Regions from separate parts of the Homo sapiens genome. Here region 2 is linked to region 1. The links come from fine-mapping of genetic effects on gene expression. A gene starts in region 1. The other region holds a variant in brackets. All regions are shown on one strand. Distances are from middle to middle.

What was found.
Region 2: its variant is fine-mapped to the expression of DEGS2 in whole blood (TOPMed, PIP above 0.99).

The regions. Positions count from the first base shown.
Region 1 is chr14:100,151,293-100,166,577 of GRCh38, reverse strand. DEGS2 (delta 4-desaturase, sphingolipid 2) reads left to right here and starts at 6,933. Exons shown (of 3, transcript NM_206918.3): 1 at 6,933-7,072. The coding sequence starts at 6,991. It overlaps LOC124903380 (a long non-coding RNA gene), which reads right to left and starts at 6,541. Exons shown (of 2, transcript XR_007064330.1): 1 at 6,447-6,541; 2 at 4,864-5,270. RefSeq lists enhancers at 1-6, 7-508 and silencers at 6,587-6,986, 7,087-7,146.
Region 2 is chr14:100,173,732-100,186,078 of GRCh38, reverse strand. No RefSeq gene overlaps it. Among named protein-coding and RNA genes, the nearest start is that of DEGS2, 20 kb to the right of the region's middle. The variant C/T (reference allele first, on the strand shown) is at 5,599.

The sequences.
Region 1 (15,285 bases):
CGGCATCACCGGAGCATTTCATGCTCCCGAATCCACTGGCGACCTCCTCCGGGGTCTCAGGAAGGGCAGGGATAGAGTGCTCTGTTCTTCTATGAAACATTGTGCCCCTGGTCCTGAGGGTAGGGCGCCTCCTGCCCACTAGGTCCCTGTGGGGGCGGGGGTCCTCACACTGAGCTCCTGAGAGTGAAGAGCAGCCTCCCCCACAGCCCCGGGCAGGCTCCCCCCACAGCCCCGGGCAGGCTCCCCCACAGCCCCGGGCAGGCTCCCCCACAGCCCCGGGCAGGCTCCCCCCACTCCCCCAGACAGGCTCCCCCCACTCCCCCGGACAGGCTCCCCCCACTCTCCTGGATGGGCTTCCCCCACTCCCCCAGAGAGGTTACCCCGACTGCCCCAGACAGGCTCCCCCCACTCCCCCAGACAGGCTCCCCCCACTCCCCGAGACAGGCTCCCCCGACCCTCCCGGGCAGGCTACCCCCACTCTCCCGGGCAGGCTCCCCCAACTCCCCCAGACAGGCTCCCCCCACTCTCCCGGGCAGGCTCCCCCCACTCCCCCAGACAGGCTCCCCCCACTCTCCCGGGCAGGCTCCCCCTACTCCCCCAGACAGGCTCCCCCCACTCTCCCAGGCAGGCTCCCCTGACTCTCCGGGCAGGCTCCCCCCACCCCACTTCAGGGGGCCTCCTTCGCCCCGCAGCCTCCCCCTACTCTTTGATGCAGTCTCCCCCAATTCCCCCAGGCAGCCTGAAAAGCCCCCCAAACAGCAGCTCTGTTTGCCCCCACTTAGCAGGGCCGCCTGCGGGGCACCCCCAAACACTAGGAGGAAGTCCCTCCCGTGGCTCCCTTTGGAGGAGCCTTGGGGAACCTGGCCAGCCAGCCCGGAAGGAGGCAGGCACAGCTCAGATCAGAGCTCAGAGGACCCAGGTCCTGAGTTCGGAGCGGAGAGGCGTCCACAGCAGCAGCACCAGGCGGCGCAGGCGGGGGCACCGCCCGTCCGCGGCCGCCCGGTGGAACCAGTTACCGAGAGCAGCGCAGTGGCGCCTCACTCCACCCTGCTAGCTGCGCCCACTGCTTGAAATGCAGGCAGGTGTAGTGAGGCCCACAAATCAGGGGATGTTGCCGTTGAAAAGATGGTTTGTCACTCACAGTTCTCAAGAGCAGGGGCTGCGCCACACGGCGCGGGTCGGGGACACACGGGCGAACGCTGGGGTCTGCTGAAGTCAGGGGGAGGAGAGGGAAACGTGAGCAAGAGCCTTTATTGGGGTTTCTGTGGGAAGAAACAGTCAAGGCAGGGTGAGCAGGCTTTGGACTGGCTGGTTTGAGTAATTTCAGGGCTCTGGGACAGAGGGGCTGTCCGGAGTTGTCTGATACCTGGCCCTGGTGTGATCAGGGCAGGGGAATATTGGCCCTGAGTGTGAGAGACAGAGGAGGTAGTGGGCTGTGGGCTGTGAGGTGGTCACTGGCATCTGAGAAGGAATCTCTAGTCCTAGGAGGGGCAGCCTCTCTAGGGTCAGCTAGGCCCCAGGACACAGAAAATAAAAGCATCAGACACAGAAAATAAAAATGTTCTGTGGGTGGCAGTAATTCATTTTTTATTACCACCCACCATTGCAGTGTAAGGAGATAGCATAAGCGGCTTATCCATTCTTCGTTTTTTGTTGTTGTTGGACATTGGAGTTACCTCCAGCTTTGGCTTTTACTAATAAAGCTGCCAGGACTATTCTCGCACATGTATTTGGTGGCCACACATGTTCACTACTCCTGGGTATAGACCCTGGCATGCGCAGCTTTCATAGATATTACTGAAGAGTTTTCCAAAGTGATTAAGCCAAATTTTAATGTTGTTGGCACCCTTAAGCCTTTCGGTCTGAAGACTCATGCCTTCCTTCTGTCATTCATTCAGCAAATCACTGTTTTATTATTACTATTATTATTATTAGTTTTTGAGACGGAGTTTCGCTCTTGTTGCCCAGGCTGGAGTGCAGTGGCACGATCTTGGCTCACTGCAACCCCTGCCTCCCTGGTACAAGTGATTCTCCTGCCTCAGCCTCCTGAGTAGCTGGGATTACAGGTGCCCGCCACCATGCCCAGCTAATTTTTTGTATTTTTAGTAGAGACGGGGTTGCAGCATGTTGGCCAGGCTGGTTTTGAACTCCTGGCCTCAAGCAATCCACCCGCCTCGGCCTCCCAATGTGCTAGGATCACAGGGGTGAGTCACCACGCCCAGCCCAGCAAATCATTATTAACAGCAACTCCTTTGCCAGAAAATGTTCTAGGCATTGGTGATACCAGGGGTGATCCCCAGAGAACAGGGCATTCTAGAGGAGGCCCTGTTACGATAGACAAGGACGGCTGGGCGCGGGGGCTCACCCCTGGAATCCCAGCACTTTGGGAGGCCGAGGCAGGAAGAGTGCTTGAGCCCAGGAGTTCCAGACCAGCCTGGGGAACATGGAGGCTCAAGCCATCCTCCTACATCGCGCCTGGGACCACAGGCGCGAGCCACCACACCTGGCTAATTTTTGTATTTTTTGTGGAGACAGGGTTTTGCCATGTTGTCCCGGCTGGTCTCAAACTCCGGGGCTTAAGTTAATCTGCCTACCTCAGCCTTCCAAAGTGTTGGGATTATGGGCGGGCATGAGCCACCTCGCCGGGCCACAAAACCCGGTCTCTGCAAAAAAAACCCCAAAAGAACAAAAATAAGCTGGGTGTGGTGGGCGCACCTATAGTCCCAGCTACTCAGGAGGCTGAGGTAGGAGGATCACCTGAGCCCGGGAGGCAGAGGTTGCAGTGAGCTGAGACTGCACCACTGCACTTCACCTGGATGACAGAGTGAGATCCTATCTTTAAAAAGTAATAATAAAATAAACAAGTAAATAAGTACCTGCTATAATAATTTACTTCCTGTAGGGATAACCCCTAATTACATATAATTAAATTGTAATTACAATTTCAGTGGGATGACTTCTATGAAGGAAACAAGGCTGGGTAGGGACCAGTGTTGCCTCTTCTCCATCCTTTCCTAGCAGTCTGGCTATGAGGCCGCTTGGATCCTGAAACTGTCCTCATGTCTCGATTCCTCCACGGGCTCCGTTTCAATAGAGGGGTGTGGTTTTTATTTTTTTATTTTTATTTTATTTTTTGAGATGGAGTTCGGCTCTTGTCTCCCAGGCTGGAGTGCAGTAGCGAAATCTCAGCTCACCGCAACCTCTGCCTCCTGGATTCAAGCGATTCTCCTGCCTCGGCCTCCCAACTAGCTGGGATTTACAGGCGTGTGCCACCACGCCTGGCTAATTTTTGTATTTTTAGTAGAGACAGGGTTTCATCATGTTGGCCAGGCTGGTTTCAAGTCCTGACCTCAGATAATCCACCCGCCTCGGCATCCCAAAGTGCTGGGATTACAGGCGTGAGCCACCTCGCCCGGCTCGGGTGTGGTTTTTAAATGAGCACTTTTTAAATGTCTATCTCTAGCTCAGTCTTGGGGGCACTGCTCTCACTCCTCCATCGAGTCTGCTTTCCTCAACATCTGTTTGTCAGGCTCTGCTCCTTCTTGGGTCGGTTGCCCTTTCATTCTGTGGCTTTCCTCCGACGTGTGCTGTCTCTGGGTCATGGGCTGTCTGACTCCTTGCTGGCTCCTGGGAGGTGTGGGAGGGGCAGTGTGAAATGTCTTCTGGCCTGTTTTCTGCAAACACGAGGCAGTGGAGGCCTTTTTGCATGGGGCAGCTAATACTGTCATTGAGGCTTTTGGGTGGAGGCCCATCCTGCTCCTGGCACAGCACTCCGGCCAGGGGGCTTACAATCAGGGCCCTCTTGAGAGGTAACCAGCACCCCACCCCTGCTGCTGCCTGGCCCAGGGGAAATGGGGGTGTGGAGGGAGGCCAAGGGGCCACTGAAGAGTAGCTGGCCGTGGTGGGCTCCCTCTCAGTTTCCAGTCCAAAGAGTCCCTGCTTTCCAATGCTGTGTGCGCGTGTGTGTGTGTACACTCCCAAACTTTATATTTAAAAGAAACTATATTTTGGCTGAGCGCGGTGGCTCATGCCTGTGATCCCAGCACTTTGGGAGGCCAAGGTGGGTGGATTCCTTGAGTCCAGGAGTTCAAGACCAGCCTGGTGATCTGCCTGCCTCGACTTCCCAAAGTGCTGGGATTACAGGTGTGAGCCACTGCACCTGGCCTAATAAACTTCATTTTATTTTATTATTTATTTATTTATTTTATTTATTTTTATTTATTTATTTTTGAGACGGAGTCTTGCTCTGTTGCCCAGGCTCTGGAGTGCAGTGGCGCAAACTCGGCTCACTGCAAGCTCCGCCTCCCGGGTTCATGCCATTCTGCCTCAGCCTCCCGAGTAGCTGGGACTACAGGTGCCCGCCACCATGCCCAGCTAATTTTTTTTGTATTTTTAGTAGAGACGGGGTTTCACTGTGTTAGCCAGGATAGTCTCGATCTCCTGACCTCGTGATCCACCTGCCTCGGCCTCCCAAAGTGCTGGGATTACAGGTGTGAGCCACCGTGCCCGGCCTATTTATATTTTTTGAGATGCAGTCTCGCTCTGTCGCCCAGGCTGGAGTGCAATGGTGCAATCTCAGCTCACTGCAACCTCTGCCTCCCAGGTTCAAGCAATTCTCCTGCCTCGATTACAGGTGCCTGCCACCACGCCCAGCTAATTTTTGTATTTTTAGTAGAGACGGGATTTCACTATGTTGGCCAGACTGGTCTCGAACTCCTGAGCTCAGGTGATCTGCCTACCTCAGCCTCCCAAAGTGCTGGGATTACAGGCGTGAGCCACCATGCCCGGCCATAAACTTTATTTTTCAGAACAGCTTTATATTTACAGAAAAACTGTGATGATAGTTTAGAAAGTTCACATATATGCCACACCCAGTTTCCTTTATTTTAATATCTTATAATATGGTGCATTTGTTGCCTTTGATGGACCAATATTGATACACTATGATTAACTATGGTCCAGCTTTACTAGGCTTTCCTTAGCTTTACCTAATGTCCTTTTTCTGCTCCAGGATCCCATTCAAGACACCACATTACAAACGAAAATGTATTTTCTGTCATTTCTGGGACAACGGACAGGGTGGGGACGCAACAGTATGTGCTCCTGGCTCGTCAACACCGTGAAGCTGGGTTTCTGGCTCCCCAGGGACTTGGGGAGCACTTGGCAAGGGCATCAGACTTGATTTCATGCATCCTGGGTGTCTGTTCCACTCCCAGGTCTTCTTCAGCATGTCCTCTGACTTGTCCCCTCTCTGGCCTCAGTTTCCTCATCTGGAAAATGAGGGCCTTGGTGAGTTTCCTCTGGATAGGCGGTGGCCTGGGGCAGAGGGAACTGGCAGGCTTGGTGTTGTCCTGAGGGTGGAGCTGGGGCTCAGGGCGGCAGATCTCACGGAGTTCAACACAGGGGCGAAGGCTCTGATTTTGGAAGCTTTTTAATTCAAAGGTCAGGGGCCAAAGTCATGCCCCAGCCTTGCTGTTAATTCCTCTGTGCCTCAGGCAAGGCGCTCCTCATCTCTGGGCCTCAGTCTCCTGATCTGTAAAGTGATGGCTGGTGGGATGACTTCTGAGGACCCTTCTGGCTGGGAACAGAGCAGGCTGCCCTGGGAGCAATGAGTCTTCTCCCAAGGGTGCAAGCTGGGCCGGGAGGCCTCCTGGGTGTGGCAAGGGGTGATGGCCATGGTGGCATGTGGGTCCCCCTGCTGATGGAAAATCTGGCCTCTGTGTCCACCTTTCCCATGGCTAATTCAGGGGATGGTGGCTGGCGGCTGCAGGACACCCATGCCTTCCTTCCTGGCTCACTCAGGACTGCCTTTGGCCCTGAGCTAAGGAAGGCCTGCCAAGTGTACCAAACCCCGGGCCATGGACTTCCATGGGACGCACAGAAGCACGCCCTCACTATGTGCGAGCCTGTGGCAGCGCTGGCTGATGTGTCAGTCAGCTCCCAGGCAACTGCCAGCCGAGGCCAGGCTCTGGCCCACAGGCACAGCAGGTCCACCCTCCAAAACTCCAAGGGAGTGGGAGAAGGAACAGAGGCATCACTGAGAGGGTGAAGATGAGGGGCCCTGTGCCCTTACCTCCCCAAAACTAGACTTTCCATTTGAGAACATTCAGGTTCTGCCTTGTTTCCAAGCGTTTGCATCTGCTGTTCCCCCTAGCACCAATGCCTTTCCCTTTTCTAGCTGTTGAACTCCTACCCACCCCTCAAGGCCCAATGCAAAAGTTCCTTCTATTGGATCCTAGCTGCTTCAGGGCCTACCTGTGTCATGGCACGTATCACCCTGAATCATAACAGCCACTTCTGTACCTGTGTCCCCATCCAGAACTCAAGTTCCCTGAAGGCAGGAGTGGGTCTGACTCATCCCTGTGAGGTTGCTGCAGACGCATTATCTCCCCTTTGCATTATTGGTGAAAGGGCCGGGTGGAGGAAGGGAGGATTGCTGCACCAACCTTTCCTCGGCGCCTGTTTACTGGCACCGTCGCATCCATTCCACGCCGATCCTCCGCAGTCCCCCTATCCTGCCAGCCGCTCCTCCTTGGGGCAGGGGCGGCGCGAGCCACAGGGGCGTGCCCGCGAGCGGGTCGGGGCTGCGGAGAGAACGGGCCGGGGTAAAAACCCGACGGCTGCCCGCGGGTGGGCGGGGCGCGCAGAGCCGGTGGGAGGCCGCGGTGGCAGCAGTCGCCCCCGCGCATCGAGGGACCCAGGGACTCGCGCAGATGGCACGCGGCCACCTCGGTCCTGCCGGGGAGCCCCATTTCCAACCGAGGCAACTGAGGTTCCCAAAGCGCCAGCTACCCGCCGGGGTCTGGAGAGCGCCGGGGCCCGGCCGCCCCGCCCAGCCAGAGGTGCCCCGCCCCAAGCCTGGCGCACCTGGCCCCGCCCCGCCGGGACCCCGCCCCCGCCCTAATCAGAGCTGGTTCCGCGCCGCGGCCGCCGCGACAGGTGCAGCAGAGCCGAGCCGGCCGCGCTCCGAACGGCGCCTCCCGCCCCACCATGGGCAACAGCGCGAGCCGCAGCGACTTCGAGTGGGTCTACACCGACCAGCCGCACACGCAGCGGCGCAAGGAGATACTGGGTGAGCGCCGCGCGGGGCCCACCCCGGTGGGGACCGCCCCGTTGGCCCGTCTGGAGTCGCGTCGTGGGGTCGAGCCCAGACGGGCCGCTCCAGCTCTGGCCCAAATTCCAGTGGGCGTTCCGCCATTGCCGCTCCCCTCCCTGGGGTCCCCGGCCGGCTCCCCGAGGGTCCCCCACCCTGGCCGGGTCTGAAACTCCCTGGGACCTGAGGATTCCGAGGACCCCAGTACGGGTCCGAGCGCCAGGGAGCGCGTCCCAGCTGTTCCTCGCGAGCCACTCCCGGGGCCAGGGCCGGGGCTCTGGGATGCTGGGACGCGAGGGCGCAGGGGCGGCCCCGGGACGCGCTACGAGGCGCACGCGCTCCCTGGCGCGGAGGCAGCTTGCGCGACGCGGGGCCTCCACCCGCAGTCACTGGGCGCCTGCTGCGCTCAGAGCCCCTGGGTCTCGCGGCCACGGGCGCCCCAGGCTGGAGTTCAGGGCGGATGAGCGCCGGGAAGGGAGCAAACGCGAATGAGAGGCGCGCGTGTTTTCTTTGAAAAAAGCAAAGATTGTACTAAAGAATCCTTCTATTCTGGCATGTCGCTTATTACGTGGTGGCTGTTTTCCTTGTTGCTTCGTGTCCTCTGCGAGGAGGGCATCTTTACCCACTCGGAGTCACTCTCGTTCATGCCAGAGGCCCCATCCCACCCACAAGCAAGGTGGCCCCGGTGAGTCGTCCTTGGCCCGGGCTTACGGGGTTAAAGGGCCTGCGTCTGGAGAGTGGCTTTTGCCAGATGCCACCAAATCGCCACAGGCTGAGACAGGCCCGCCCCTCCCGCCCTGCCTAAGTCAGCACCGCGCGTTGCCACACTTTGTAATCTTCAGTCAGATTGGGGAAACAATACCATTTCACTGTGGCTTTAATTTGCACTTATTTGATGGAGGTTTCACATTTTAATCGGGCGTTTTATTTAATTTAATTAATTTATTTATTTAGAGACAGAGTCTCGCGATCTCGGCTCACTGCGACCCCCGCCTCCCAGGTTCAAGCGATTCTCCTGCCTCAGCCTTCTGAGTAGCTGGGATTACAGGCACCTGCCACCACACCCGGCTAATTTTTGTATTTGTAGTGAGATGGAGTTTCACCATGTTGGCTAGGCGCGATCTTAGCTCACTGCAACCTCTCCCCACTGGGCTCAACTGATCCTCCTACCTCAGCCTCCTGAGTAGTTGAGACTGCAGGTGTGTACCACTATGCCCGGCTATTTTTTTTGTATTTTTACTAGAAACAGGGTCTTGCCATGTTGCCCAGGCTGGTCTCAAACTTCCGAGCTCGAGGGATCCACCCATCTCAGCCTCCCAAAGTGTTGGGACTACAGGCATGGGCCATGAGCCACCACGCCTGGCCTGAACAACTTTTTTTTTTTTTTTTTTTTTTTTTGAGAGGAAGTCTTGCTCTGTCGCCCAGACCGGAGTGCAGTGATGCGATCTCCACTCACCGCAACCTCCGCCTCCCAGGTTCAAGCGATTCTCCTGCCTCAGCCTTCTGAGTAGCTGGGATTACAGGCACCCGCCACCACACCCGGCTAATTTTGTATTTGTAGTAGAGATGGGGTTTCACCATGTTGGCTAGGCTGGTCTCAAACTCCTGACCTCAGGTGATTCACCCGCCTCTGCCTCCCAAACTGTTGGGATTACAGGTGTGAGCCACTGCGCCCAGCCAACTTTTTCTTTCTTCCTCTTTTTTTAATCCCATGGCAGCATACTGAGATACCATGACTTTTAAATGTTTGAAACCCAAGATACATTGGGTGGCTAGCCTGTGACTGCATCCCGGGGTAACTGGGGCCTCAGGAGCTGGAAGCCTCTATGTGGGTTTGTGACTGCTGTGGTTTCTCCTGGGAGGTGAGCTGCAGCCCAGCATCGTCTGGTCCCAGCAGTGGTAGCTGCCTCCCGTATGCTGTGGAACTCCTGGGGAGGGCTGGGAGGAACCTTGGGGGTCATCTGACCCTCCCTCCCTGCTCATCATGTGAACAGGGCAGGTGTCCTGGCTACTGCCCCTCAGCAGGTCTGAGGTGGGGCTGAGGCTGGAGCAGGGGCCTCCTTGGCCCTGTTTGCATTTCTGTCCCCTCCCCTGGCTATCCCCAGCTTCACTTCACAGGACTCATTGGGTATCTGGCACCATGTGGAAAAGGCAAGAGGCACATGGCAGCCAGTGTCCTGGTCCCTAGGAGCTCATATCCATAGAATAGGAGCTGGGCCTACCTCAGGGCCACCTGGAGGGATCCAGACACTCTGGGCTGTGGCCTCACTTTCCCAATCTGCAAAACGGGCAGTCGTCCTACCAGGCAGAGTAGGTGTGAGGATGAGATGATATCTCAGCTGGGAAGGTGCCCGAGGTGGTACCTGGCCCTCCAGGACGTGGGGAAGGAGCTCTCTCTAAAGAGGGAAGCCACAGGCCCTGGAACCAATCCAGGAGGCTTTCTGGAGGTGGTGGCTAGGAAGGTTGAAAGACTTGGAAAAGGGAGAGGCACCTGGGGCCAGGGCTTGGGGAGCACAAGTCCTCAGGGCGGGCCCTCCAGCTTGGTCCACGCTCCCTTTCCTGCAGGGCGGAAGCAGGGGCTTCCTTTCCACCTGTTGTTTTCAGCTAATAAATTTGGAATGTGCCATTCCCTCCCTCCCCGGCACAAGCTGTTCCCCCAGGTGAATGTCCCTCCTCCCTGCTCTGCCAGGCTCTGTCTTGCTTAGCCTTGCTCGCTCAGTTCAGTCCCACCTCCTGCAGAAAGCCCCTCCACTGCTCCCAGACCTGGCCCAGCTGGATGGGGACCCCTCCTCTGGGTTCCCCTCCATGGCTCCAAGCCCTCTGGGCTCTGGGCTCTTTGGGGCACAGTTCAAGAGCTTGGCTGTGGAGCTGAACCCCTGGCAAGGACCCTGACACCCACTTATTAGCCACGGGTGAGTCTGTAAACAGATGAAGGAGTTGGGGCCTGGGCAAATGAAAAGGGGTTAATAAATCATACCTTCCTAATGGGGCTGCTGTGCAGATTAAACGAGGTGATATGTAAAGTGCTTATTCCAGGACTCGATGAGTATCAGCTGCGATGATAATGATTAATGTCTCAGAGACCTGGCAAGGGCTGTCGTTTCCCTAAGGACAGGGAATACTCTCTGCTTCCTCCATGCCTATGCTATTCCCAGGCCTTGGAGAAATGCTCTGTGTAACTGCCAGCATCTCTTTATAGAAGAGGCAGGAGTGAGGCTGAGAGAGGGGAAGCAACTTGCCGGGGAACACACAGGCCAGGCTGGTGCTCAGGCAGCCTCCTGCCCCACCCAGCTGGCTCCTGCAGCCTATGCCAAGCTCCTGGGTGCCCAGGGATGTTCAATAAAGATCATAATCTGACAGTCAGAATCCAGGAAGTCCTTGCAAAGAGCTGGCTCCAGGAGCTCTGTGGGTTGGGGCCAAAGTCCATCTCCAGCTCCTGCCGGGGAGGGGGACATGCTCCCTAGAACATAACTTCCTAAGAAAGTGGGGTCTCCTAGGCCAGGGCTGAGGCTCCCTGACCTGAAAGGGCAGGACCGGAGCCAGCGAGACTGGCCCCATCAGAGACCCAGCCAGGCGTGGCCGGTGGAGTAAGAGGCAAGCTCTGGGTTTGTTTTTTTTTTGAAAATGAATAGCTTTGTAATTTTGTTTGTTTTTAAATTATGAAAGCAGGGCACACATGGTAATACAAAAATTCAAATAAAGAAAAACAAAAGAGGAAATCCCGGAAGCGAAACTGCTGGCTGTTGCTGGATTATTTGCTTCAGAAAGGCCGGGGCTGAGGCTCTGTCAGTGGTAACTGGTAAAATCCAGGACCAAACTGCCAGAGCCACAAGGGGATCCTGGGGCTCCATCTCCCAGCCACAGAGCTGCCCGGCTGCAGGGTAAACCCATCTCTGTAACGTACGGGGGCCTGGCTGCTCCCAGATCTTCAGTATATATTTGTCACTGGAAATGAAAGGCAGGTTTAGTGAGCGGCTGGTGAGAAGCTGGACACTTGCCACACTTTCCAGATCCAACTAGGTCCCAGGGTGCCTCCCACACTGGACAGGGTCAGGCTTGTCTCTTGGCACAAAACCTCAGGTGGCAGGGATGGAAGCTGTGGGTAGGTGGCTTCCCAGAGCATTAGGCCAGGGCTGGGAGGAAGAAGTTTAGGAAGGAGGGGATTAGGAGGGCTTTGCTGCCTTTGTGAGGAGAAGCTTGTCCCAGGTCAGGTTACTCAGCTGTGGATGGGTGGGGAAGAGGCCACGTTGTATGGAAGCATTTCCTGCTGTGGCCACCAGGTGGCATCGTCAACCCTGAGCAGGTTTGTGGTGGAACAGGGAGCTGGGAAGCAGGTGGCGGCAGAGGTGGAATGTTGGAGGGATGATGGGCAGTGACGGGCACCTCCCATGTGGCCAGTGAGTGACTGTCATATGATGGCATTTGGCCTCCCTGGGAAGGTGATACAGCAGGTCTCCCTAGATGTTGCCAGAGCCAGGGCTTGGGGGCTCACTGGGGCCCAGTGTGGAAGAGATAAGAGGCCCCTTTGCTTTTGGGAGCCCTGCTGGGGACAAGACAAAAGTGACTTTATTGCCAGCTAGTCAGGAGGGGCAGGGGTGGAGTGGCCTGTGACTGGGAGTAGGGGTGTGGCGTGGGGGGGCCCTGTCTCTGCTACTCTTGGAGGCAAGGGTACAGCAGCCTCTCTGGCCTGGCTGCCTGTTTCTGATGCGGTCCCTCTGCTCAATGGCTCAGCAGATTTGTCAGGAGCATTTCTGGGCAAAGGCTGTAACCCATCAGAGTCGCACCAGGGTGATGCAACTGTCCTGTGGGTGCAGGGGGCTTTGGGCTGGCCTCCCTTCAGCAGGCCCTGCCTCTGGCTCTGCCCTCTGGCATTTTATGAGTGAGCCTGCTAACTGGTATAAGTGTGCAGACGTTTCACACCTTGGCATCTGCTGCCCCTTCTTCTCCATAGGCCCCTAGGGAAGACCCCACCTCCATGGGCTCCCAGCCACAGAGGCTGTCAGAGCAGATGCCTTACAGATGGAGACTGAGGAGACAGGTCCAGAGAGGGACAGGGGCTTGCCCAAGGGCACACAGGAGTCTGACTGAGCCTGATCCATGATTTTTTCTTTCTTTTTTTTTTTTTTTTTGAGACGCTTTGTTGCCAGGCTGGAGTCCAGTGGTGTGATTTTGGCTCACTGCAACCTCTGCCTCCCAGGTTCAAGCAATTCTCCTGCCTCAGCCTCCTAAGTAGCTGGAACTACAGGCGCACGCCACCTTGTCCAGCTGATTTTTGTATTTTTAGTAGAGACGGGGTTTCACCATGTTGGCCAGGCTGGTTTTGAACTCCTGACCTCAAGTGATCTGCCCGTCTCAGCCTCCCAAAGTGCTGGGATTACAGGTGTGAGCCACTGCGCCCAGATCTGATCCAGAATTTTCTCTGGGTGCTCTGTGGCAGTGTAGCCAAGCACTAGATCGGTGCTGATGGAGTCTGAGTCCACATCGGGGCCTTGCTCACCATTGTGCAGGCCTGGAGTCGGGGGTCCTGAGTTCAAGTCTTGGCTCGGTCAGCCTTGTTGCACCTTGGTGGGCCCTTCTTTGCACCTCCCTTGACCTCAGACCCTTCCTGAGTCCTGCCTGGACAGGGTGACTTCTAGCAACAGCTGTTGTTCATGGCCACCTGCCCAGATGCCTTGTGCCTCACCTGGGGCCGCTGCTGGAAACCGTCTGTGTGGGTCTGTGTATCTTGGTTCCAGGTGGCTGTGCACGTCGGGCTCTGTGCTGCCCCACGGAGCAGAGAGCCCTCAAGGCACATGTGTCTCCCAGCTACTCCTGCCATCCAGGCTGGAGGTGTGGAAGGGCAGAGTCACACCTGAGGTCAGCTGAGTGCCCACAGCAGGACAGAGTTCCCAGGCTGGGCCAGGTTTGGGTGTCTAGCCAGAGCCCATGCAGGCCTGCAATTCCTCATGGGGCTGCCAGGGAGCTGTGTCTCTCCCTGTCCTTCTCTGCCTTGGGCTTTCCCCCTCTCTTGTGGCCCAGAGAAGATGGGGCCCAAGGCCATGGAACCCATTGACTCCCACTCCCCAGCCCCACCCATTCTCCCTGTCCCCCTTTCTTTGAGGCCCTGGAAGAGGCCCTGTATTAGTGTTCTCCAGAGAGACAGAACTGATAGGATCTATGTATCTATCTCTCACATCTATTATCTATCTATCTATCTATCTATCTATCTATCTATCTATCTATCTATCTATCTGTTTTTGCCATTACTGTCGCCCAGGCTGGAGTGCAGTGGTGCAATTGCGGCTCACTGCAGCCCCGAACTCCTGGGCTCAAGCGATCTTCCCACCTCAGCCTCCCAAGTAGCTGGGACCACAGGCACACACCACCACACCTGGCTGATTTTTAAACTTTTTGCATAATAAGGCCTTGCTATATTGCCCAGGCTGATCCTGACCTCCTGGGCTCAAGGAAACCTCCTGCCTCAGCCTCCCAAAGTGCTGAGATTACAATGTAAGCCACCATGCCTGGATCAATCGATATATCGATCTATCTTCCTATCTTCCTTCCTTCCCTTTCCCTCCCTCCCTCCCTTCCTTCTTTCCTTCCATCCATCCATCCATCCATTCGAAGAGGGGATTTATTAGGGGAATTGGCTCATGTGATTATGGAGGCTGTAAAGTCCCATGACAGACTGTCTGCAAGCTGGAGACCCAGGGGTGGCAGTAGGGGTAGCGTGGTTCAGTCTGAGTCTGAGGGCCTCAGAACCAGGGAACTCGACGGTGGAACCCTCAGTATGATATTGAAGGCCTGAAAGCAGGCGGAGGGTGGAGGGTGCTGGTGTAGTTCCTGGAGTCCAAAGGCTGGAGTTTTGATATCCAAGGACTAGAGAAGTGTGTGTTGCAGCTCCAAGAGAGGGAAGTGGTGGGAGAAGTAGAGAAGGATGGGAGGAGAGAGGGAGGGAAAGACAGGAGGGAGACCCTTGTCTCTGCCTTTTTGTTCTATCGGGGCCCTAGCTGATTGGATGGTGCTGGCCCACATTGTGGGCGGGCCTTCCTCACTCAGTCCACTTACCCTCTGCCAGTCTGGAAACACCTTGACAGACACCCAGAAATAATGCTCCATAGCTCTCGAGGAGTTCCTGAGTCCCCTTGGCACCCAGCTCCAGTGACCCTTGCCTTCTCCATGATGCCCACCCTGGCATCTCCATGACGCCCACCCTGGCATCTCCATGACGCCCACCCTGGCATCTCCTTCCCATCCTGCCGTCCTCTGGTGCCTCCCTGTTGCCCTCCCTGCCCCATGCCCTAGGCAGACCCACCCTCGCTACCTCATCTCACCCTCGCCTTGCCTCGGGCTGTGCCGGAATGGCTCCTGCTGAGACACCATGACCTGGCTAAGTCGAGGGACACCTGCTCTCTCTTCTTGTCCCTGAACCTCTGTGACCCCTGGCAGCTGACCACCTCCAAGCCCTGGCTTCAGTTACTACTCCATCCTGACCGTACCCAGGGTGACCTCAGCCACGACCCTCTCCTGCACATCCAGTCTGCATGGCGTGGTCCCGAGTGTTCCTGGCACGTCCCCACTCCCACTCCCCCAGGGACCTGGGCGCTCTGGAGCTGAAGATGGTAGATCTTTGCAATCTTTGCAAAAAGCGTGGGTTGTTTTCTCCTGTCAAGGAGTCAGTCAACTGACCTTGGGTGGGTGCAGAGTAGACCCACTCCTAAGACAGGGCTTCCGGGGGGCCCACTGGAGGCTGGGGTGTTCAGTGAGGCCTTTCTGCCCAGTGGGTTGGGACTCCCAGCCTGTGCCACCTCTGGAACTCCTTGGGTGCAAAGCTCCAGCAGCTGCTGTTTTCAGAACTGTCATGGAGCTCCTGCTCCAGCAAAGCTTCTCTGGGCCTCAGGCCTTTGGCAGGAGCCCCCTGTACCTGCAGTGTGGGTGTCTCGGGCTCCCTGAGTGCCATTCTCTGCTCGTTCAGCTCCTTGGGGGTCCCTCAGCCACGTGCTGCAGTCCAGCAGGTGCCTGCAGGCAGGTGAGGTGACCTGGGGCTCCCTGCATCTGTTCCCTCCTTGAGTCGCGCCCTGTGCTGCCCATGCTCAGCTGCCTCGTGCACTGCTCAGTTTTTAGTTACTTCCAGTTGGTGGCTCCCAAGCCTGCAAGCTTTGGGCCTGCTCTTGTTGAAACAAGCCAGGGCCAGGCCATCGCCCCAAGAC
Region 2 (12,347 bases), 21 kb before region 1:
CCAGCTGATAAAACAGGATGCAGGCCAGGCGCGGTGGCTCACACCTGTAATCCCAGCACTTTGGGAGGCTGAGGTGGGCGGATCACGAGGTCAGGAGATCAAGACCATCCTGGCTAACACAGTGAAACCCCGTCTCTACTAAAAATACAAAAAATTAGACGGGTATGGCGGCGGACACCTGTAGTCCCAGCTACTCGAGAGGCTGAGGCAGGAGAATGTGTGAACCCGGGGGGCGGAGCTTGCAGTGAGCTGAGATCGCACCACTGCACTCCAGCCTGGGCGACAGAGCAAGACTCCATCTCAAAATAAATAAATAAATAAATAAAAATAAATAAATAAATAAATAAACCAGGATGCAATAAAGAAGCCAGCAAAAACCCACGAAGACCAAGATGGTGACGAAAGTGACCTGGTCATCCTCACTGCTCATTATACAATAACTACAATACATTAGCATTAGGATTAGCATGCTAAAAGACACTCCAACCAGTGCCATGACAGTTTACAGATGCCATGGTAATGCCCAGAAATTACCTGATATGGTTTAAAAAGTGAAAGAACCCTCAGTTCTAGGAATTGCCTGCCCCTCTCCTGGAAAACTCATGAAGAATCCACCCTTTGTTTAGCATCTAATCAAGAAATAACCATAAGTATGCTCAGTAGAGCAGCCCGTGCCACTGCTCTGCCTGTGGAGTAGTCATTCTTTTATTCTCCCTCCTCAGCTTCCCAAAATGCTGGGATTACAGGCATGAGCCACCGCGCCTGGCCTATTCCTTTACTTTTTTAAGAAACTTGCTTTCATTTGACTCTGTGGGCTTGCCCGAATTCCTTCTTGCATGAGATCCAAGAACTGTCTCTTGGGGTCTGGATCAGACCCCTTTCCGGTCACACTTGTGTGTAAAATGTCATTGATTTTAAGATGATCCACTGATGATCCAGGCATGGTGGCTCACGCCTGTACCCCCAGCACATTGGGAGGCGGAGGCAGGAGGATTGCTTAATCCTAGGAGTTTGAGACCAGCCTGGGCAACATAGTGAGACTCCATCTCTACAAATAATTTTAAAAAAATTAGCTGGCTGTGAGGCTGGGCGTGGTGGCTCATGTCTGTAATCCTAGCACTTTGAGAGGCCAAGGCAGGTGGATCCCCTGAGGTCAGGAGTTCAAGACCAGCCTGGCCAACATGATGAAACCCCATCTCTACAGAAAATACAAAAATTAGCCAGGCGTGGTGGCAAGTGCCTATAATCCCAGCTACTCAGGAGGCTGAGGCAGGAGAATCGCTTGAACCAGGCAGGGCGGAGGTTGCAATGAGCCGAGATCACGCCACTTCACTCCAGCCTGGGTGAAAGAGTGAAACTCCGTCTCAAAAAATAAAAAATAAAAATAAAAATAAAAAATTAGCTGGGTGTGGTAGCACATGCCTGTGGTCCTAGTTACTAGATCATCTCTTTTTTTTTGGACACAGGATTTCGTTCTATCATCCAGGCTGGAGTGCAGTGGCATGATCTCAGCTCACTGCAACCTCTGCCCCCTGGGCTCAACTGATCCTCCTGCCTCAGCCTCCTGAGTACAGGTGTGTACCACTATGCCCAGCTATTTTTTTGTATTTTTACTAGAGACAGGGTCTTGCCATGTTGCCCAGGCTGGTCTCAAACATCTGAGCTCGAGGGATCCACCCATCTCAGCCTCCCAAAGTGTTGGGACTACAGGCATGGGCCATGAGCCACCACGCCTGGCCTGAACAACTTTTTTTTTTTTTTTTGAGATGAAGTCTCGCTCTGTCACCCAGGCTGGAGTGCAGTGATGCGATCTCCACTCACCGCAACCTCCGCCTCCCAGGTTCAAGCGATTCTCCTGCCTCAGTCTCCCGAGTAGCTGGGACTACAGGCATGTGGCACCATGCCCAGCTAATTTTTGTATTTTTAGTAAAGACAGGTCTTCACCTTGTTGACCAGGATGGTCTCAATCTCTTGACATCATGATCTGCCCGCCTCGGCCTCCCAAAGCACTGGGATTACAGGCGTGAGCCACCGAGCCAGGCCCTGAACAACTTTTTCAATGAAAATGAAACTCTGTCCCTCAAACAATCTCTGCAGAGGTTCACCAGTGGTCATACTGTAACAGTGGAAAAGAACGGACACAACTAACTCTATTTTTTGTTGTTGTTGTTGTTTTGTTTTGTTTTTGAGATGGAGTCTTGCTCTGTCGCCCAGGCTGGAGTGGAGTGGCACGATCTCAGCTCACTGCAACCTCCATCTCCCATGTTCAAGTGATTCTCCTGTCTCAGCCTCCCAAGTAGCTAGGATTACAGGCTCATGCCACCGCGACTGGGCAATTTTTGTATTTTTAGTAGAGATGGGGTTTTACCATGTTGGTTGGCCAGGCTGGTCTTAAACTCCTGACCTCAAGTGATCTGCCTGCCTCAGCCTCCCAAAGTGCTGGGATTACAGGTGTGAGCCACCATGCCCAGTCCTTTTTTTTTTTTTTCAAGGGGCCTTTACCCATTCCCGTTTGTAAGCCGGGATAATTTACAGCACTGAGATAAAATGCACAAACAGCAATCATGTAGTTCGTAAAACTAACTCTGGGATTAGAGGGGAAGTAGGTAAGCCAGGAACTACGTTTTGTTAAGGATTTATAGGAGCATCATGACCCTTGACTAAGGACAAAGAAGTTCCCAACCTCTTCAGACCCTCGCTGGCTCCTAGATGTCTGTGGTCCTCGGTCACCTCTTGATCCCAAGCCCTGCACATGGTTTCCCCATATCCCCCCTCCCACAAAAAGCCTCTGACCAGCCTGAAATACTGAAGATGGGACTTTATTTTTTATTTATTTATATTTTTGAGATAGAGTCTCACTCTGTCGCTCAGGCTGGAGTACAGTGGTGCCATCTCGGCTCACTACAACCTCTACCTCCCAGGTTCAAGCGATTCTCTTGCCTCAGCCTCCCAAGTAACTGTGATTACTGGCACCCACCACCACGCCCAGCTAATTTTGTATTTTTAGTAGAGCCAGGATTTCGCCATGTTGGTCAGGCTGACCTCAGGTGATCCGCCCACCTTGGCCTCCCAAAGTGCTGGGATTACAGGTGTGAGCCACCGCGCCCCACCTAATTTTTGTATTTTTAGTAGAGAAAGGGTTTCACCATGTTGGCCAGGCTGGTCTGTAACTCCTGACCTCAGGTGATCCACCTGCCTCGGCCTCCCAAAGTTCTGGGATTACAGGCATGAGCCACCACGCCCAACCATGCCTGGCTAATTTTTGTATTCTTAGTAAAGACGGGGTTTCACCATGTTGGCCAGGCTGGTCTTGAACTCCTGACTTCAAGTGATCCACCCACTTCAGCCTCCTAAAGTGCTGGGATTACAGGCATGAGCCACCACCCCAGGCCTTAAGATGGTACGTTAGAGCACGAGTTCCCCATCTCAGTTTTGCCGGCTCTCTGAATAAGCCTGCTTTTCCTCCCACCAACCCTCATCTCTTGTGTCTGGCTTTTGAGGGTTGAGCAATCAAACCTAGGTTCAGTTACAATATCTAGGATGGAATTGGAGGACATCTTGATTTTCTTCCCTCTGGACCCTATGTGCCTGCCTGGACTGCCCTGGCCACCCAGCAGAGTTCTGCCCTCCTTCCCTTGGGTTGCTTGAAGTGTCTGGTGTCCTTGGCAATGATCACAGTGTGGGTATCTCAGTGGGAGCCACCTGGGTGGGGAGGCTCAGGCTGTGTCATCCCAGATTCCAGATAGCACAAGGCTCCATGCTTAGTGGATGACATCAGATCTGCCCTGCCAGAATCTCCTTTCTCCAGCCTCTTTTGTGAATCTTGGCACGGCTGACGTTAGCTCAAAAGCAAATCATGTTTGATATTAATTTATTAAAGCATTCTGGAAGTTCCTCAGCTGCCTTAGTTTCAGGACCCCAGAGTTCCCAGAAGAACCCTGCATTGGCTAGTGCCAGCCAGTGGCTGTGACGGTCATACCTGCCCTGCTGAGCCTCCTCCAGCATCCTCTGCTCCAGCCCAACTATCCAGACCACAACTTGTACAGTACTCCCTCCCAGTCTTTGTTTCTGCTGTTTCTTCAACCTGGGATACCATCCACTGTCCAGTTTTTGTTTGTTTGTTTTGTTTTTTGTTTTCTTTTCTTTTTTTTAATTGATCATTCTTGGGTGTTTCTCGCAGAGGGGGATTTGGCAGGGTCACAGGACAATAGTGGAGGGAAGGTCAGCAGATAAACAAGTGAACAAAGGTCTCTGGTTTTCCTAGGCAGAGGACCCTGCGGCCTTCCGCAGTGTTTGTGTCCCTGGGTACTTGAGATTAGGGAGTGGCGATGACTCTTAACGAGCATGCTGCCTTCAAGCATCTGTTTAACAAAGCACATCTTGCACCACCCTTAATCCATTCAACCCTGAGTGGACACAGCACATGTTTCAGAGAGCACAGGGTTGGGGGTAAGGTCACAGATCAACAGGATCCCAAGGCAGAAGAATTTTTCTTAGTACAGAACAAAATGAGAAGTCTCCCATGTCTACCTCTTTCTACACAGACACGGCAACCATCCGATTTCTCAATCTTTTCCCCACCTTTCCCGCCTTTCTATTCCACAAAGCCGCCATTGTCATCCTGGCCCGTTCTCAATGAGCTGTTGGGTACACCTCCCAGACGGGGTGGTGGCCGGGCAGAGGGGCTCCTCACTTCCTAGTAGGGGAGGCCGGGCAGAGGCGCCCCTCACCTCCCGGATGGGGCGGCTGGCTGGGCGGGGGGCTGACCCCCCCCGCCTCCCTCCCGGACGGGGCGGCTGGCCGGGCAGAGGGGCTCCTCACTTCCCAGTAGGGGCGGCTGGGCAGAGGCGCCCCTCACCTCCCGGATGGGGCGGCTGGCCGGGCGGGGGGCTGACCCCCCCACCTCCCTCCCGGACGGGGCGGCTGGCCGGGCGGGGGGCTGACCCCCCCCACCTCCCTCCCGGACGGGGCGGCTGGCCAGGCAGAGGGGCTCCTCACTTCCCAGTAGGGGCGGCCAGGCAGAGGCGCCCCTCACCTCCCGGACGGGGCGGCTGGCCGGGCGGGGGGCTGACCCCCCCACCTCCCTCCCGGACGGGCGGCTGGCCAGGCGGAGGGGCTCCTCACTTCTCAGACGGTGTGGCTGCCGGGCGGAGGGGCTTCTCACTTCTCAGACGGGCGGTTGCCAGGCAGAGGGTCTCCTCACATCCCAGACGGGGCGGCCGGGCAGAGACGCTCCTCACTTCCTAGATGGGATGGCGGCCGGGCAGAGACGCTCCTCACTTTCCAGACTGGGCAGCCAGACAGAGGGGCTCCTCACATCCCAGACGATGGGCGGCCAGGCAGAGACGCTCCTCACTTCCCAGACGGGGTGGCGGCCGGGCAGAAGCTGCAATCTCGGCACTTTGGGGGGCCAAGGCAGGCAGCTAGGAGGTGGAGGTTGTAGTGAGCCGAGATCATGCCACTGCACTCCAGCCTGGGCACCATTGAGCACTGAGTGAACGCAACTCCGTCTGCCATCCCGGCACCTCGGGAGGCCGAGGCTGGCGGATCACTCGCGGTTAGGAGCTGGAGACCAGCCCGGCCAACACAGCGAAACCC[C/T]GTCTCCACCAAAAAAATACGAAAACCAGTCAGGCGTGGCGGCGCGCGCCTGCAATCGCAGGCACTCCGCAGGCTGAGGCAGGAGAATGAGGCAGGGAGGTTGCAGTGAGCCGAGATGGCAGCAGTACAGTCCAGCTTTGGCTCCGCATCAGAGGGAGACCGTGGCAAGAGAGGGAGAGGGAGACTGTGGGGAGACAGAGAGGGAGAGGGAGAGGGATTGTTTTTTGTTTTCGTTTTTGTTTTTTGAGATGGAGTCTCGCTCTGTCGTCCAGGCCGGAGTGCAGTGGCGTGATCTCGGCTCGCTGCAACCTCCATTTCCCAGGTTCAAGCGATTCTCCTGCTTCAGCCTCCCGAGTAGATGGGATTACAGGCATGCACCACCATGCCCAGCTAATTTTTGTATTTTTAGTAGAGACAGGGTTTTGCCATGTTGGTAAGGCTGGTCTCGAACTCCTGACCTCAGGTGATCCACCTGCCTCGGCCTCCCAAAGTGCTAGGATTACAAGCATGAGCCACCGCGCCTGGCTCACTGTCCAGTTTTTGCAGCTCTAGACCTCATCCATTCTCTAAGACTCAGACTGACATCACTTCCTTCTGGAGAGCACCCGTCCCTCCTCCCAAGGCCCTATCACAGCCTGACGATGGTAACTAGCCATGGTGCCACTCCTAGAAACCCTGGCTTCCCTGCATCCTCTGACTCTTGTCTTTGCTTCCTCTCCAAGACATGAACGTCCCTGGACAGAGCTAGAACAGCCACAGAGCTTTCTGGGAAGAGTTTTGGAGTCAGACAAGACGTTGGTTCCTTGGTTCCCCTGAACTGCAATTTCCGTCGTCATAAAATGGGGATATTGATAGTTGTTCACCACTGTGAGGATAGACGGCTGCCCTGGGCTGTGCGCTGGGGACACAGCATCAGAAATGTCTGGCCTACCTTCACGAAGGGGCTTGAACATGGGGGAACTATGATTAGTAACAGTGTGGTGTTATTATATTCATTTATTTGTGTATTTATAGTAACGTGCAAAACCTTAAGTGAGCAACCAGATGATTTTTCTCTATGTCCACCTACGGCTCCATCCAGATTGCATTACAGCAAATTTCCAGCTCCCAGAAGCCTCCAAAGGCAACTACTATTTAGACTTTTACCACCATAGATTAATTTTACCTTTGTTTTGTACTTTATATAAATGAAATCCTGCAGCGTGAATGTGGTCAAGGACCAGGGACCAGGCTGCCTGAGCTGAAGAGGGGATTTAGGAGAGGCCACGTCTAAGCTGGGTCCCAGCGCCAGGCAGGAGCAGGACCCCAGCTCTAGGTCCTCCCCTCCACCCTGTGTGACTCCACACTGGTCTCCCCACAGCAGCGCCGGGCCTAGGCACTCAGTATGTTTTTCCCTGTGGGAGGGAGGTGGGGTACAGTGAGTCAGGAGTGGGGTTTGAAGGCTATGGGTCAGGGCCAGAAAGGCAGGTTGGGCGAATTGAGCCAGGCCCCTATGTCCGCAAGCTGGGCGATGAAGTCAGTGCCGTGAGTAGTCCTGGTGGCATTAGTCATGCGCTCTGTTCTCACCTCCTGGAGCAGACCATTCCTGCACCCCACTCTCCAGGGGCCCAACCTCAGTTTCCCTGGTGGGACCTTCGAGAGGCTTGGCTCAGCCAGTGATGGATTTGTTCACTTGTCTCTTTCAAGGCCTCACCCCCACACACCCTTGCTCTTTGTCCTGCCCCAGCCTCTTCAGAGCTGGGACCAGGCCAGTGACCCAAGGAGGATTCCGCTTAAAAGGCTCTCCCTTGTGCGGACACCTCATCCACATCCTCCCCACCCCACGTCCCAACTCCCTGAGGCCCTCCCAGACCTCAACACTCCCAGGCTCCCCAGGGCACTAAGCCTCTGAGCCCTGCTCCACTCCCCTTCCCCAGCCACAGTGGCCCTTGCTCCTTCCCACCACCAGGCCTGTGTCCCAGCCGTGCCTGCAGCTGAGAATCTCTCCTCTCCCTGGTCAGGAACTCTCTCCGTCCTTCAAGGCCCTCAAGGCCTGAACTCACACTTCTTGGATGCCCTGTGGCCCTTCTGTCTGGGCACTCCCAGCCTTGGCACCAGGCCATTCACCCTCTGTGGCATCATGCAGCCTTTGTACCGAGCCCTGAACTCGACCGGGAAGGGGCCTGTTGCTCCCCCTCCTCCCAGGTGGGGACAGATGGGGTCGACAGAAAAGAGGTTAAAGTAAGAAATTCGTGCCCACTGAGACGCTGGGCCCGCGACTCCCCTGGCCCTCTGGGACTCCCTTATCTCGGGCCCTGGTTTATGGGAGGTAGGGCGGGATCCCGCAGCCCGCGCCTCGGTTCCATAGCTGCACGCAGGTCCCTGCTCCCGGCGAGCGTTGGGCCAGGTTCGAGGACAGGCGCGGCACTGGGCTGGGCTGGGCTGGGCTGGGCTGGGCTGGGCCGCAGCGGGAGCAACGTGGGCTGCTCCGGGCTCCGGGCTGCAGGGGCAGGAGGATCAATGCTCCCAGGGGCGGGGGTATCAATGCTCCCGGGGGGGGAACCGCGAGTGCAAAGCACCCTCCTCTCCCCACCCCCGCCGCCGCGGACAGTGCAGGATTGGGAGGCCTGGGGACCTGGCTGGCGGGGGGCAATGCGCTGGGAATGGGTGGCGAAGGAGGACGAGCCTGGGAGGAGTCCACTAATTCAAAAAAATTTAATTAGATATCTTTTTATACCGGCCCGGTGGCTCACACCTGTAATCCCAGCACTTTGGGAGGCTAAGTTGGGAGGATCCCTTGAGCCCAGGAGTTTGAGACCAGCCTGGGCAACACAGCAAGACCCCGAGACCCCATCCCTAAAAAAGAAAAAAGAGATATATATATTTTTTTTAATTAGCTGGGCGTGGTGGCACATGCCTGTATTCCTAGCTACTGGGAATGCTGAGGAGGGAGGATTACTTGAACCCAGGGCTTAGAAGGCTATAGTGAGCTATGATCACACCACTGCAATCCAGCCTGGGCAACAGAGCAAGACCCTGTACCCAAACAAAAAACAAAAACCCAAAACCCCCAAAGATATCTTTTCTGCCTTTAAATGATTAACATTCGTAAAACTCAAACTGGGCAGATGCATTAAAAGAAAAATCCTCATCCCGCAGCCCCCCTCCAGTTTGACAGGATCCTTCCAGGCCTTCTCCAGAACCTCCACTCACACACAAACACACACAGATACCTCTGCAGACAGACAGATGCACACAGGCACACCTTTGCACAGACACACACAGCCACCCACACAGCCACAAGGACACACGGTAATTATATAAAAAGGTGATCAGAACAGTCTTCGGCGTGGGTGTATTTATGCAGACACGTCTTTAGTGACAAACCTACGTATATTTTACTTTTACAGGTTTTGCTGTAAGAACAGATGCTACTCACGCGCCATCTCCCTGTTCCGGCCCCTCCCACCACGCCCTGGAGGCATTTCGCTGTGTCTGTCCCATCTTCCACACTGCCGCTGCGGGCATGGTCCCACCGTAGGGACTCGGTGCCAGGTTGTGCACATCTAAACTTCATGCCTGGTGACTCCATTTCCAAGGCTGAGGGGTGGTGGCAATGGGGTGCCCTGGGGTTGTGGAGGTGGAGTTTTGCTCACCTCTGGGATTCAGGAAGGTGCCCTGGGCATGAGGCCAAGGAGAGAAGTCAGACGTGAGCCGCTGAACTGGGGACAGACTTGACTTTCTTCTTCTTGTTTTGTGTTTTGCAGAGACTGGGTCTTGCTGTGTTGCTCAGGCTGCTAGGCTGGCCTTGAACCCCTGAGCTCAAGCGATAGCCTCCCAAATTGCTAGGATTACAGGCCTGAGCCACCCTACCTGGCCCTCCTTGCCATTTTTTAAAAATTTAATTTTTGTGGGTACATACTAGGTGTATATATTTACGGTGTACATGAGATTACATGAGATATCTTGATACAGGCATGCAATGCATAATAACCACATCAGGGTACCCAACAGGTCAAGTTTTTTTTTTTTTTTTTTTTTTTTTTGAGATGGAGTCTTTTTTTGTTGCCCGGGCTGGAGTGCAATGGTGCGATCTCTGCTCACTGAAGCCTCCATCTCCTGGGTTCAGGTGATTCTCCTGCCTCAGCCTCCTGAGCAGCTGGGATCACAGGCGTGCGCCACCACGCCCAGCTCATTTTTGTATTTTTAGTAGAGAAACGTTTTCACCGTGTTGGCCAGACTGGTCTCGAGTTTCTGACCTCAGAGTGATCCACCTGCCTCAGCCTCCCAGAGTGCTGGGATTACAGACGTGAGCCATCGCGCCCAGCCAGTTCAAGCATTTATCTTTTGCGTCCTTGACATTCTTGAGGGACATGTTTGAGGTCTTTGGGGCTCTCCAGATTTGTGTCCACAACAAACATTGATTATCCACTGAAAATGCAATCACATTCAACCGGAAATAGCCCCTTGGAGGATCCTTAGGTCAGTGGGGGGAGCTGAGTGGGCTCCTGCCTGTCTGTCAGCATTTCATCCCCAGCATCCTGTGTCCATGGGCTGCACCGGCATGGAGGGGGTTCCCACTGGGTGGCACCGGCAGCAGAGGCAGCCTCACACCTCACGCACTATCCGAGCTTCAGAATGCGTCTCTGTATGCTGGTGGGGCCAGAAGCCCGGCTGCCTCTGTGCCTGGCTGCCATGCTCAGTCTTTCTTGGGCCTGGGCTGGGGACCTGGCTGGGGAAACCAAGAGTATTTCAGAGCTGTGGTTTGGGACGTGGATATCCCATGGAGCGCCCGAGCCAGATGTGCCAGGGCCAGAGCGCACCTCCACTCCTGAGGAGTCCCTTTGCCCTCCACTGTAAAGCGCTGAAATGTGGTGGCCTGGGCTCCCAGCTGACGGCACGGGAAGCACTGTATTTGTCGGCCCAGGGATGAAGGTGGCACAATTCAGAGTAGAGCCCGGTTCTGCCTTGGTGTTGGCTCTTGCCTGTGGGGCTGGCACCACGTCCCCTGCTCCGAATGCCTGCACCTGCTTGGGTGTGTTTGTGTGTGGTCTGCAATTGGGATTCCGCACCCCCTCAGCCCCACCCACCAGTTTTTATTTTATCCTTAAGACACATGTTTGAAAGTGACCTAATCAACGAGGTGTCATAAATGAAATAGCGACAAGAGTGCTCAGGGGATGGCATAAGGCTGAGGGCCCCAAGAGGGAGGCTCCCAGCAACCCTGTGGAAATCACCCAGCAGCCCATGGCCCCCGACACCTGGTTCTCCCAGATGACAACTGCTGTGGCCTGAGGGCCCACTGTGTGCCAGGCAAGGCTGTGGGTGTTTGACACACAGGCTCCTGCTCCTGAGAACTCCAGGAAGTAGGGTAGCTATCTCCACTTTACAGGGGAAGAGACTGAGGCACAGAGGCGAAGTGATTTGCCCAAGCTCAGCTGGCGGGTAAGAGGCTGAGATGCCATCTCAGCTGGGTCTGTGTCCAGGGGCTGTGCTGCCCCTTGGGCCAAAAAGGAAAGACAGAGAATTAGACAAGACCACCGAGGTAGTGAGCAGAGTTGGGGAGAGGGGGAAAGAAGGACAAGTCATCAGTTCAGGCTGACAAATCAGGGAGGCCTCTCAGAGCAGGTGGCACTTGGTCTTGACATGAGGGTTTGGAAAGAGTTGGGGCAGGCATGCAGGATGAGAGGCCTGGGGATACAGGGAGGGAGTGGAGACCAGCGTGGAGTCAGGGTTGGAGGAGTGCATTCAGGTGGACTAGCCAGATGCAGCCGTGCAGGCACGGAGGGCTGGTCTGGGCCATGCCTTACGGGGGCAGGCTATAGTGGGCTATAGTGGGAGACAGGAGAGGCCGCAGTGGGGTGGACATGCACGAGGCTGCGGCATGGCCTTTCTGTGCACAGCTTCACTGAGAAGTCTGTGGACAGTCTCACTTATTCATCTGCAGGCAGTTTATTTCTGTTTCTTCTTGGAAGCTCTAGGGATTTCCTTTCCCTCCCTCCCTCCCTCCCTCCCTCCCTTCCTTCCTTCCCTCCCTCGTTTTCTTTTTTTGAGACAGGATCTCACTCTGTTGCCCAGGCTGGAGTGCAGTGGCACGATCACGACTCACTGAAGCCTTGGCCTCCCAGGCTCAGGTGATCCTCCCACCTTGGCCTCCCAAGTAGCTGGGACTATAGGCATGAGCCACCAGGCCAACTATTTTATTTTATTTTATTTTTTGTAGAGACAGGGTTTCTCCATGTTGTCCAGGTTGGTCTCAAACTCCTGAGCTCAAGTGATCCTCCCACCTCAGCCTCCCAAAGCGCTGGGATTGCAGGCATGAGCCACCGTGCTCTATGGCTTTGGGATTTTTGTTTTCATCTCCTTACTCAAAAATTTCTCTACAATGTTTCTAGATGGTAACTTTGGGTTTTGCTGTTATTGTTTCAAGTTGTGCTCAGTTCTCTTTCTTTCTTCTTTTTTTTTTTTTTGGACACAGAGTCTTGCTCTCTCGCCAGGCTGGAGTGCAGTGGTGCAATCTCAGCTCACTGCAACCTCCGCCTCCTGGGTTCAAATGATTCTCCTGCTTCAGCCTCCTGAGTAGCTGGGATTACAGGCTCCTGCCACCTCGCCCAGCTAGTTTTTACATTTTCACCATGTTGGCCAGGCTGGTCTTGAACTCCTGACCTCAAGTGATCCAACTGCCTGGGCCTCCCAAAGTGCTGGGATTACAGGTGTGAGCCACTGTGCCCAGCCTATGCTCACTTTTCAATTAAACTGCACACATCTTA